2 separate regions of the Homo sapiens genome follow, and region 1 is linked to region 2. Evidence: fine-mapped expression QTL. A gene starts in region 2. The other region holds a variant in brackets. All regions are shown on one strand. Distances are between the middles of the regions. Region 1 has its middle 110 kb from the start of REEP3. Region 2 holds the start of ADO (2-aminoethanethiol dioxygenase).

The links. PIP is the estimated chance that this variant, and not a neighbour inherited with it, causes the effect.
Region 1: its variant is the best candidate, but not a certain one, in a credible set for the expression of ADO in esophagus mucosa (GTEx, PIP 0.53).

What each region holds. Positions count from the first base shown.
Region 1 is chr10:63,626,864-63,632,236 of GRCh38, reverse strand. No RefSeq gene overlaps it. Among named protein-coding and RNA genes, the nearest start is that of REEP3, 110 kb to the right of the region's middle. RefSeq lists a silencer at 1,582-1,911 and enhancers at 2,382-2,431, 2,442-2,621, 3,012-3,221. The variant C/G (reference allele first, on the strand shown) is at 2,788.
Region 2 is chr10:62,801,902-62,807,274 of GRCh38, reverse strand. ADO (2-aminoethanethiol dioxygenase) reads right to left here and starts at 2,555. Exons shown (of 1, transcript NM_032804.6): 1 at 1-2,555. The coding sequence starts at 2,215. The coding sequence ends at 1,403. RefSeq lists enhancers at 1,951-2,070, 2,541-2,800 and a silencer at 2,251-2,500.

The DNA.
Region 1 (5,373 bases), 820 kb before region 2:
GTTTTAAAAGGCTTTCACAGTATGACGAAAGACTAGGTATGCATCATTATCATTTCATCCAATTTCCTCTAGTTAGACTGAAAGCCCTGCCAGGGCAAGGACTGGAGATGTGCCTAGAGTGTTGTGGGTTTTATTCATTCAACGAATGTATTAAAACTCATACTCCTTTTAAAAAAGGATCTCTGGAGGCTACCCAGTTACCATTGCCCACACCTTTCATTTTGGTGGTAAACAGTCTACTCACATTGATAATAACAATTATGTTCTTCCTATGCATTAAACTTTGTGTTAAGCACTTGATTTGCAGTATCATTAATCCTTAACCCTTACACCACTCCTATGCTACTCTAAAATATACAGTTACATTTTAGAAATGATGAAGCTTGCCAGGCATGGTGGCTCACGCCTGTAATCTCAACACTTTGGGAGGCTGAGCTGGGAGGAATGCTTGAGGCTAGGAATTTCAGGCGAGCCTGGGCAACATAGTGAGTCCCCTATCTCTAAAAAACAAAAATAAAAAATTAACCAGGTGTGGTGGCATGCGACTGTAACCCTTGCTGGTTGGGAGGCTGAGGCCAGAGGATAGTCTGAGCCCAGGGGTTTGAGGCTGCAACGAGCTAGGATCGTGCCATTGTACTTTAGCCTGCGCAACACAGTGAGACCCTGTCTCTAAGCAGCACCAGGGGCAAAAGACATTATGCAATTTGCCACAATTCACAGAAATAAGCAATGGAAGAGCTCATATTTGAAAACTTACCGCAGGCATTTAGTATCCTGTTTTGTTTTGATTCTTAGTGAAGCCTGGCAGTCTTTGGGAGAGGAAACCCCAAGGCTTGTTCAGAGTTTCAGCTGGTGAATAAGGTGGGACCCATTCATGCACTTCGCCCCCACCGGGAGATGTGCCATAAATTGAAGACTGTGAATAGTCACTGGTTTTGTAAAAGACTATGTGTCAACTGGGACCATCCGATGAAAAAGGACCAACATCATTTAACATAATTTTCTTGTTGGTTATGATTTTTTCTCTAAGGATATTTCCCCCCTCTGGTTTTCTAAATTGTCACAAAACATTTGCGCAACGACCTGGGGTGTTATGACACCCTTAGATGAAAATCTGAGGACAGCTTGGATGAAGAATAACTTTTAAGTAACAACATAGTCCGCCCTCGCCTTGGTTAAACAAATCGAATGGAAACGATTTGTTCAAGATGGGAGCATCAAATAGACGCAAGCTCTTCGAAACAGCCCTGATTCCCTGGCAAACGCTGTTGCTTAGCGAAACGTCAAAACCCCTGCGTGCAAACAAACGTCTGAGGGGCGCACCCGCCTTGAGCAAGCTTCTCCCGGCAGCTCGGGCTTTGGAGAACGTCTGGAGGACATTGGTAGCTCCTCCCTCTCCGGTTAAGGACTTGGTAGGGGGAAGAGGGCAGAGGATCCAGGATCTCCGGGTCGGGTCATCTGGGTTGACGCGTCCTGACACCCAGGACGGTGCAGGGGAGCTCCGGGGCGAGTCGCTTCGCGCCAGGAAAGGCCTGCGTCTCAGCGCTGGAACAGAGGGGAGAAGCAGAGGGGAGCCCCGCCCTCGGTCCAGTTCTGGAGCAGTGCGCCCCTCCCCCGCCCCGGAAACGTCCCCGCCGCCCCTCCCTCCACCACCACCTCCCGGGGACCTAGGTTGTAAAATCCCACGCAGTGGGGCGGGCACGGTGACGGGGGTGGGGCGGGTGGCGTAAGGCGCCACCGCCCACTGGCACGGCACCAGCGCCCTCCAGCACCCAACCGCCGCCTCCCTCTCCCCGGCGCGGCTCCAGCCTCCCCCCGCCAGCCCAGCCCCCCCAGCGTGGCTCCAGCCTCACTGCACCCACCCACCCTGCACCGCAACCTCCCAGCACCCTAGCTGCCCGGCCGGCCCAGCTCGGCTCTGGAGGGCGTCCCTCGCATCTGGACTCCCTCTGCCCGAGGGAGGAGCCGCAGCCGCGGTCGCCCCGCCCCTGGCGTTCTTTGACTCCCCCGGCCTCTTGGACATCTGGGTGCGGGGGTTAGTGCATCAGATGTGGCTCCTGGGCCGCCAGATGTGCGCGTTCCCCGCCCGGGGCAGGCGGCCGGCGAGTCTGGGAGGACGCGTGGGAGGGGCTGGGAGTTTTCCCTCCTAGCAGACTTAAAAGCCAGCAGAACCTCCAGCCCCCTGGGCTCCCGGCCTGGGCCTCCTGGGTCTCCGGGACGCACTGCCCAACGGAAAAGTTTTCAGCCCAGTCTGTGCCTCGCCGCCAAGCAGCCCTTGGGGCTTCTCAAAGTGGTAGAGAAAATAGGACAGCTCTACAGGATGCCCCAAAGAAAACCCTCATTTGTCGACCAGGCGACCTTAGTGCTGGCGTGGGACTACAGCTGCGCAGCCAGCAAACCCCAGTTGGGGGAGGGGGAGAAGTGGCAGTAGAGTTCGCATCTGGGGCTTGCTCTAAAGCGCTCTTTGACTGCTTTTGGATTCCATATTTGAAGTTGAGAGTCGTATTCCACCTGGTACAGGCAGTTCAGGGCAGGAGAAAAGCCAAGTGAACTCTGTGACTCAATCCCCTTGGAATGTGCCTGGAATAATAATAGGGACTTGAAAGGGTTTTATGGCCGAGGTGGCTAGTGGAGAGCAGTCTCCTACGCCTTGCAGTTGGCGGTCGGCCGAGGGGGGCAGTATTGCCTTATGCAGAGCTTCTGCGCCTGCAAACGGGACAAAAATAGTCGGAGCATCTGGTTTAAATCAACCAAAAAGCATTTCTATCAGCTTAATCCACCGGCCTA[C/G]AGAACTGACAGAACAGGACAAGCCAAATATATTCCCGGTACTCTTTTAACACTCCAATAATAGCTAAGCCCAATCACACTTTACCGCTGGGATTTCTGTGTCCTACCATACAACTGTCGTTATTTTATAGATGTTGCAAATTAAACTTCCTTTTCTGGAGTTGTGTGTGGGCATGTGCTTAAGCAGTTACATTTGCAAGCAACGCTCGACTACGCTGCCCTTTTCGTTTTCCTTTTTCTTTCTCTCTTTTGGTATGAGGTCTTAGAATAGTCAAAAGTATCTAAGGCCAACATATGGGTTGCTTACACCACTAAATATATAGCTGCATTTCCCTCTCTTAACGCCCTAATCAGGATTCCAAAGGCAAGTTGGAACAAAAGAAAAAACGTGTCTGAGTGTAAAGGGAGAATTTGTGCCAAGAATTACAGTCGCAGGGTAAATAACCTTGTTTTCTCCTTCATCAGTGGCCGCTACCAAGTCCCGTTCTTGGAAAGTGGCCAACAGTCTGTCTGGTGGAGGGTGCTGCTAATTAGAGAGAGCCCATAAACCTCTCTGTCAAAGAGGGCATGTGACCTTCTCTTCAAGTCTGAACAATAAAGCCGGCGAACTGCAGACTGCACTCAACACTGGCTGCCCCGCGGATTCCCTAAATAGGAACAGGATGAAGGCCAGGCTCAAGAGGTTACCATAGCTCTGCTCCCACACTTTGAGGAATCGGTCACTCCACTTCCCCATATAACTTGTTTCAATTACTCTCTACAATCTATTTAGAGGAGAGCAGCTTGCAGAGAGCACTCATTGTCTAATCTAAATGAGGAAGCAATTATTACTTGCTGCAGTCTAATGTGCTTTGAGACTGGTGGGTCAAAGAGCAACCTGATTTCTTGTAACGTGTCTTTGCACTTTGGAAGATACACCTTTTTAATGACATTTATTTACTCCTGCTTTTAGGACACATTTTTCTTTCTATTAAGATTACAAAATTAAGGTGTTTTTCCCCTTCTCAGTCTTCAATGTCCTTTTTAATTTTAGAATTTAAGCTATTGTAAACACCCCAAGTACTTTTGCATATTGTTTAATGTTAAATATTATTTTTTTTAGTGCTTTCTTATAGGCATGTTCTCTGATTATAGCAAAATAGAGTTCTCTAAGTCTTCCCTTCTTTGTTTAATTTACCTCCCTGGGAGCCCCCTTGCTAGCTTTAATTTTATACAACATGTTGTAAACTATAAATAATACAGCTCCACTTTCCTAGAACATATGGAAACTGTCGCCTGCTATATATCCTAACTGTACTTGCTTTCAGCTTAAAGACTGAATAAAGTTAATCTCCTGTGTAAAAAGGCATTTAGCCTTTTGTGTGTGTGTGTGTGCATTTTATTAGTTAAAACCCAGTATGGAACAGCACATGAAATTCTTGTTGTGAACAGAGCACATAAAAGGGTTTACAAGGTGTGGTTTGAAGAGAGGAAGCCGTGGAACAAATGTTGGTGGAAAGGAGAGGAAGGAAGGAAAGCACTTCCTGAGAGGATACTCCTCCTGTTTCAGCTGCATCCTCTCTTCAGATTCTTCCTGTTTGTCTTAGTCCATAACTGATAGTAAATTATTTGTCTTCATTTTTTTCTATTCACTTTAAAAGCATCCTTTCTCTCTGTACTAAAGCTACTCTTGAAACCAAATCCATTAACTTCCAATGACTTAACAACTTTACTTCATTTAACATTCTGATAATCTGAAACTTTTGTATTATATAATACATGTATGGAAGGAATCATTTCCATGTTAACTTTCCAAGTATTCTGTGATCTCTAAGACAACCAACTGTGACGTAATTAACAACAGAGTCCGAAGTCACAAACATTGCGGTTGCTTGGGTCGTAGGTTGGTCACTGTTTTTTGTTTTTGTTTTTGAGACAGCATCTCACTGTGTCACCTAGGCTGAAGTGTGGTGGTGCAATCACAGCTCATTGTAGCCTCAATTTCCCGGGCTCAAGCGATCCTCTTGCCTCAGCCCCGCAAATAGCTGGGACTACAGGTGTGCGCCAGCCACCACGTCCAGCTAATTTTTGTATTTTTTATAGAGATGGGGTTTTGCCATGTTGCCCAGGCTGGTCTCCAACTGTGCTCAAGTGATCCGCCCGCCTCACCCTCCCAAAGTGTTGGGATTACAGGCATGAGCCACTGCACCCGGTCACAGGTTGGTCACTAGTGAGTCTCTGCGTATTTGTAAAATCGGGATGATGCCTCTTCGCAAAGTGTGAAAACAAACATATACTACTGTTGGTTATCACAACTGAATGTAAGGGGCATCACAAGCCTTATAAAGTATTAATTCTTCTTCCAAATACATCACGTGCTACAACATCCCCTTTCGTTACAAGATAAATTAATAAAATATTTATAATTTCTACATACTGAATTTATGACTTTATATTTTGAAGTGGAGTTTCTTTTGGAATTTTTTTTTTTTGAGACAAGGTCTCACTTTGTCACCCAGGCTGGAGTGCAGCACAATCTCAGCTCACTGCAGCTTTGACCTCCCAAGGTTTAAGCAATCCTCCCAGCTTAGCCCCCCAATTAGCTGG
Region 2 (5,373 bases):
TCCTATAAATAGTAAAAAGGGAGAAACAGTGCTCCATGGCCTGAAGCAAATGGTGTCAATACATGTGTAAACAAGGTAAGACTGCTCGGACTATTAAAAGCACAAAAATAAAACTAGTCACAGATAGCAAGACTTCATTTCAGGAGTTGGGAGTGGGAAGTAGGAAGTGTTTAATCCCAAGTTTTGGTGCCCTAAAATGGCTAGTAGTATAGTTAATTCTCAATTCTCTAGCTGTGATCTTCTGTGCCTTCTATCTCTTCCTAAGGAAAACCACATTAGATGAACCCAGGGCTCAGTCATTTTAGGGAGAGGGTTGAGACAACACTGCCAGCAACACAGCTGGAATCACCCGAGTCGGGAACATTAAAGTTCCTGAGAGAATATGAAACAACTATCAACATAATATTTCTCCCTACTTTTACAGTAAAATATTGGAAGTAAATAAATATAGGGAATGCAACAACTGGCTAGGAGTGTTTTACATTCAGTTGTTTGGAAGCATAACACATTCAGCTCCTTTGAATCTTCCCGTTAGAAAATACAGAATTACTCTATCACCTTTTAAGGTACAGTAAGACAAGAAAAAAAGTCATGTGAGGATAATACAGTCTTTGCATTAAAGGTGAATCTGCAACATGAAATCTGCTCGACTCACAGATCTGGAGATTCATAGGGAAGATAAGCTCTAAGTGACCATGTCACAGAGATATGCAGGTGCTGAATTTCTTAGTAGATGCTGCCTGAGTAAACCAGATGTGGCTACTGGGCAAAGGGAGGAAAGAAAATAAATCTTGTCCTCTACATGCATAGTTATGTTGTGAGAATGATCCCCAAACTGAAAAAATCATTTAGTTTTCACAAGGAATTAATTAGGCAGGCCAGCTCACTTTAAACAGTAGCTCATCTCCTTAAACCTAGTTTTTACCAATGACTTGAACTAAAAACAATTCAAACCACTGGGTCATGCACAGTCAATAAGTTAAAAAACTATAAGAAAAAAAGGCATAAGGGCATGAGTGGAAAATAAACCCTATTTAACTAAGGGGTAGGGAGTGGGAGCAAGAAAACCACTTAGTATTTTGTATAGAATGGGGAAGAGAGGAAGATATTTTCATTATGGCTTTAGGATGGAAGCGCTTCAGATAGTCCCCTGCCCCATTCCTCCAAATCAAAGCCCCAGTGGCAGTGACAGTACCAGGAAACAATCTAGCCTCCCCGCCCACCCCGCCCCCATAACCGTGCCCGGCGGCTGCTGTCCAGTCGCCCGTGCTTCCCAAGGCTGCCGAGGAAGCGGCTGCTGCTCATTCCAGTAGATCCAACGCCCAGGCTAGGGGGTAGAGACACAGCCCTTGTGGTAGGGTAGGGCACGTCTTCGGCCCACCGCTCCTGGGCGCCAGTGGCTTCAAGGGAAGACCTTGGGACCTGGATAGGGTTCTCCCTCGCACCAGAAGTCATCGGCCTGTGGGGTCTCCAGGAGCCACACCTCTCGAGGCAGGTCACAGGCCGAGCTGGAGGCCTCCTTGGGCCTGACCGGCTCCAGCACCCGGTAATAGTGGCAGTCCCGGCCATCGTCCGGGTCGTAGGGCGGGGCCAGGATGTCCAGGAAGGCGGCAGGCCCTTCCACGGCGTCGATCTGGTGCAGGTTGTCCCGGTGCGGTGTGAGGATGCAGGGGCCGCTGGCCTCGGTGTACTCGGCCCGCGAACGCAGCACGCCCGGCCGCACGGCTTCTCGCTCCCGGGGCTGCAGCGGCGGCTCGAACTGCTGCTCGGGCGGCAAGGCCCGCGGCCGTTGCCCGCCGCCCGCGTCTAGCTTGTCCATGCAGCTGATGCGCACGGTGCCGTACAGCACCTTGAGCATGCCGTGCATGCCCGGGTGGTCGTGCAGCGGGATGGACGTGCCGCTCTTGAGCAGGAACACGCCCAGGCTGAAGCCGTCCGTCTCGTAGATGTGCATGTAGGTGACTGGCGGCAGGTTGGGCGGCAGCGGCTGCAGTGTGGCCTTGCGCGGGGCGATGTTCAAGTCCTCGGCGCGGAGCTGGGTCAGGAGGCTCTTCAGCTTGCTCAGGTTCTCGGGGAAGCCCGGCTGCATCGGCGCCTCCGGGCCAGAAGCCGCGTCGCGATCGGAAGCGCCGCGGCCGCCCCCGCTGCCCCGGAAGGTGAGGCAAGCCTGGCGGGCGATCCGTTGGATCAAGGAGGCCATGTTGTCTCGGGGCATGGTCGGCTGCTCCTCTGCGTGCCGGGACCGGCCCCCTCCTTTCCTCCGCCCCTTGCGGTCCCCGGCGGCCGCCACGGCTGCCCCCAGCCCGGGTCGAGGCGGGAGGCCCCGCAACCACCGGCCCGTCGGGCGCGCGGCACCGCCGCCAACCTCAGCAGCCACGCGCCCGCAACTGCCCGGCGCGCTCGCCTTGAGCCCCCTCTGAGCGCGCACGCGCACGCCCCACACCCCGCACTCACGCTCCGGGAGCAGATAGCGGCCGCGCAGACGGTGCCAGGCTTTGCCTTACGCCCGGCGCTCCATTCATGCGGCCCGCACCTACGACGGTGGCCGGGCGCCCGGGGACCCTGCGGAGCATGCCGGGACTTGTAGTCCGGCCTTCCGCTTGAGCTCTGAGATAGTTCAGTTTGTTGATTGGAAAATAGAGGAACTATTACACATGTTGGGCATAAAGCGATCTTTTTCAGGATGCAGAGGTGTTTTTCTTGTTTTAGAAAAGATGAATCGGGGTGGAAGATTAGTAGCCACTTGACTACAACTCCCGGCACTCCCCGCAGGGTGGAGTGACGCACTTCCGTCAGCTGGCCCCCGGAGTAGTGGAGGCTCTTGGCCTTCATAAGGAAAGGGGCAGGGAGGGTCGTTAACCTTCTGGCGCCGCGCTGGGGCCTGGTTAGCCATGCAGGGTCGCCTTCCTTTGGCCTTGCCCCTGGGAAGGAGGCTGTTGAGTCAGCCTTAGCTCCTCGTAGCGGCCTAGGCAGCACTGTCTCCCACGGGAATTGCAGGAGGGCGCTTTTATAATTTTGTGTTTCCTAGGAGGGGAGGGGGTCCAGGCCGTCCTCTGTGATCATCAAGGTTACTCGGCCCAGCTGGGCCCAGCTGGGCCCAGCTGTTGTTTGCATCAGGACCTGATGACGCTGCTCTTCTGGTTACAGAGCAGTATAGCTTTTTGCTGGAGAGACTTGAGAGGCCATTTACAGTGGTCGTGGATTCTGAACATACTAGTGGTTATCAAATCTTGGTTTGCCTGAGAAGGGGGAGCGGGCTTTTATAAATGCAGATTCCCTGTCGTCACCCAGAGATGGAGTTACTAGATGGTTCTGAGGCATCCTAGGAGAAATAGTGGTGTGCAACAGTCAGTTCAGTCAGTAATTGTGAAATTGTTTCACTACACAGAGGCATCCTTCTCCTTGGCGTGAACTAACTTTTGGCATAAGTAAATGACTAGAAAAGCAAGACATTAGATACTATGACTTTAAACTTAACCCTGAGTTTAAAGTCTTTTTGGATTCCAAAGCTGAACATGGGTTTCTTGTACATTTTGTAATTGGAGTGGTTCAGTGAATCCTCTCCAGTTAAAATAGGCATACTTTTTAAAGTGGATTACATAACCTGGCTAATGAGTACTCACAATATGCCAGGCACTGTGTTAAGTGCATTATATAATGAATGTTATACTATTTAATCCTTGCAGCAACTCTTAAGAGGCAGGCACTATTATTATTCCCAGATTGCAGATGAGGGAATAAGTTGTAGGATAGTGAATACTAAGTACCCAGCAAAGCATGAGCAGCAGAGCAGAAATAAGTACAGTCTTACCAAAAACAGCAGCTTGAATTGGTGTAAAAGCACCAAACGAGAGTCAGGATATTGTTGTTCCAGCCTACTGTGTGTACTTACAAGCTGTGTGTCGTTAGGCAAATCCTACCCTTTTAGGGCCTCAATTTATTCATTTGTAGAATGCCGGTGTTAAGGGAACAAAAGTTCTGAACCCTACTCATCAGAACCCCCTGGAGAGCTTAAAAAATAAAGATCTTGGGGTCACACCTCAGAGATTTTGATTCAGAAGAACTGGAGTGAAGCCTATTTTTTTGTGTGTGGTTTTTTTTTGTTTGTTTGTTTGTTTGTTTTGAGGGGTAACAAGGTTTATCGTGAAGAGCGAAATAACAAAGCTTCCACAGCTTGGAAGGGGACCACAGCGGGTTGCCCCTATGATTTATATTTAAGATGCTTCCTCAAGCAATTATTATTATTATTTTTTTTTTTGAGACGGAGTCTGGGTCTGTTGCCCAGGCGGGAGTGCACTGGTGCGATCTCGGCTCACTGCAAGCTCCGCCTCCCGGGTTCACGCCATTCTCCTGCCTCAGCCTCCGGAGTAGCTGGGACTACAGATGCCCGCCATCACACCCGCCTAATTTTTTTTTCTGTATATTTAGTAGAGACGGGGTTTCACCATGTTAGCCAGAATGGTCTCGATCTCCTGAGCTCGTGATCCGCCCCCCTCGGCCTCCCAAAGTGCTGGGATTACAGGCGTGAGCCACGGCGCTCGTCCAAGCGATTCTTGATCATTAGCTCAGTTTGAGAACCACTGGTAGAGCTGTAAATAGTGAACCAGCTTTCATTAGTTAAGAGGGTGGTTATTTGCTTTAGGAAAGGATTGTTAAGACTGATTCATTTTTAGAGGTTGCCATGCCATTGTTACGTTATTTAAATGTACTTTCAAAGCTGATAAATAAATTTCATACAGTCTTTTTTCTAAAGTGAGAAGTATTTGAGAGTAAAATTCTTCCCCTTCCTTTATTTACAAATATGGACTTTTATTTATTGGTTTTACTTCTATTAGGGTATAATTAGTGGTAAGTATAGACTCCATGGAACACAGACTATATTAACATGCAGATCTCTTGCACTTAATGGTTGTCCACACTTACTTAACTGAAGCTCAAAATTTTCATCTATAAAATGGGATAATATACCTGTGTAAATCACTGATGACACTATGTAGAACATAGTAGCTGCCCCATGACAGTAGCTATTATAGGTTTAAAATGGCTATAAGTTGTACTTAAAGACCAATGAATTTAAATAATACTAAGCAAGTATTGAAATGGAATTTGACTTGTTTTGAGAATCAGCTTCAGGGTAGAGATAAAAAAGATTATTGCTTAAACCATTTACCTGGTAATTTGCTAGTCATCCTTTGGCCTGAGTTCAAAGTTTCCGAAGACTGCCTGTATCAGAATCACTTGGGAGTGTCTGTCAAAAGTGCAGATTCCCAGATCACGTCAAAACCTACTGCATCTGAATCTTTTGCACATTAAAAATTTTAAGAACCAGGCAGGCATGGTATGGTGGCTCATGCCTGTAATCCCAACACTTTG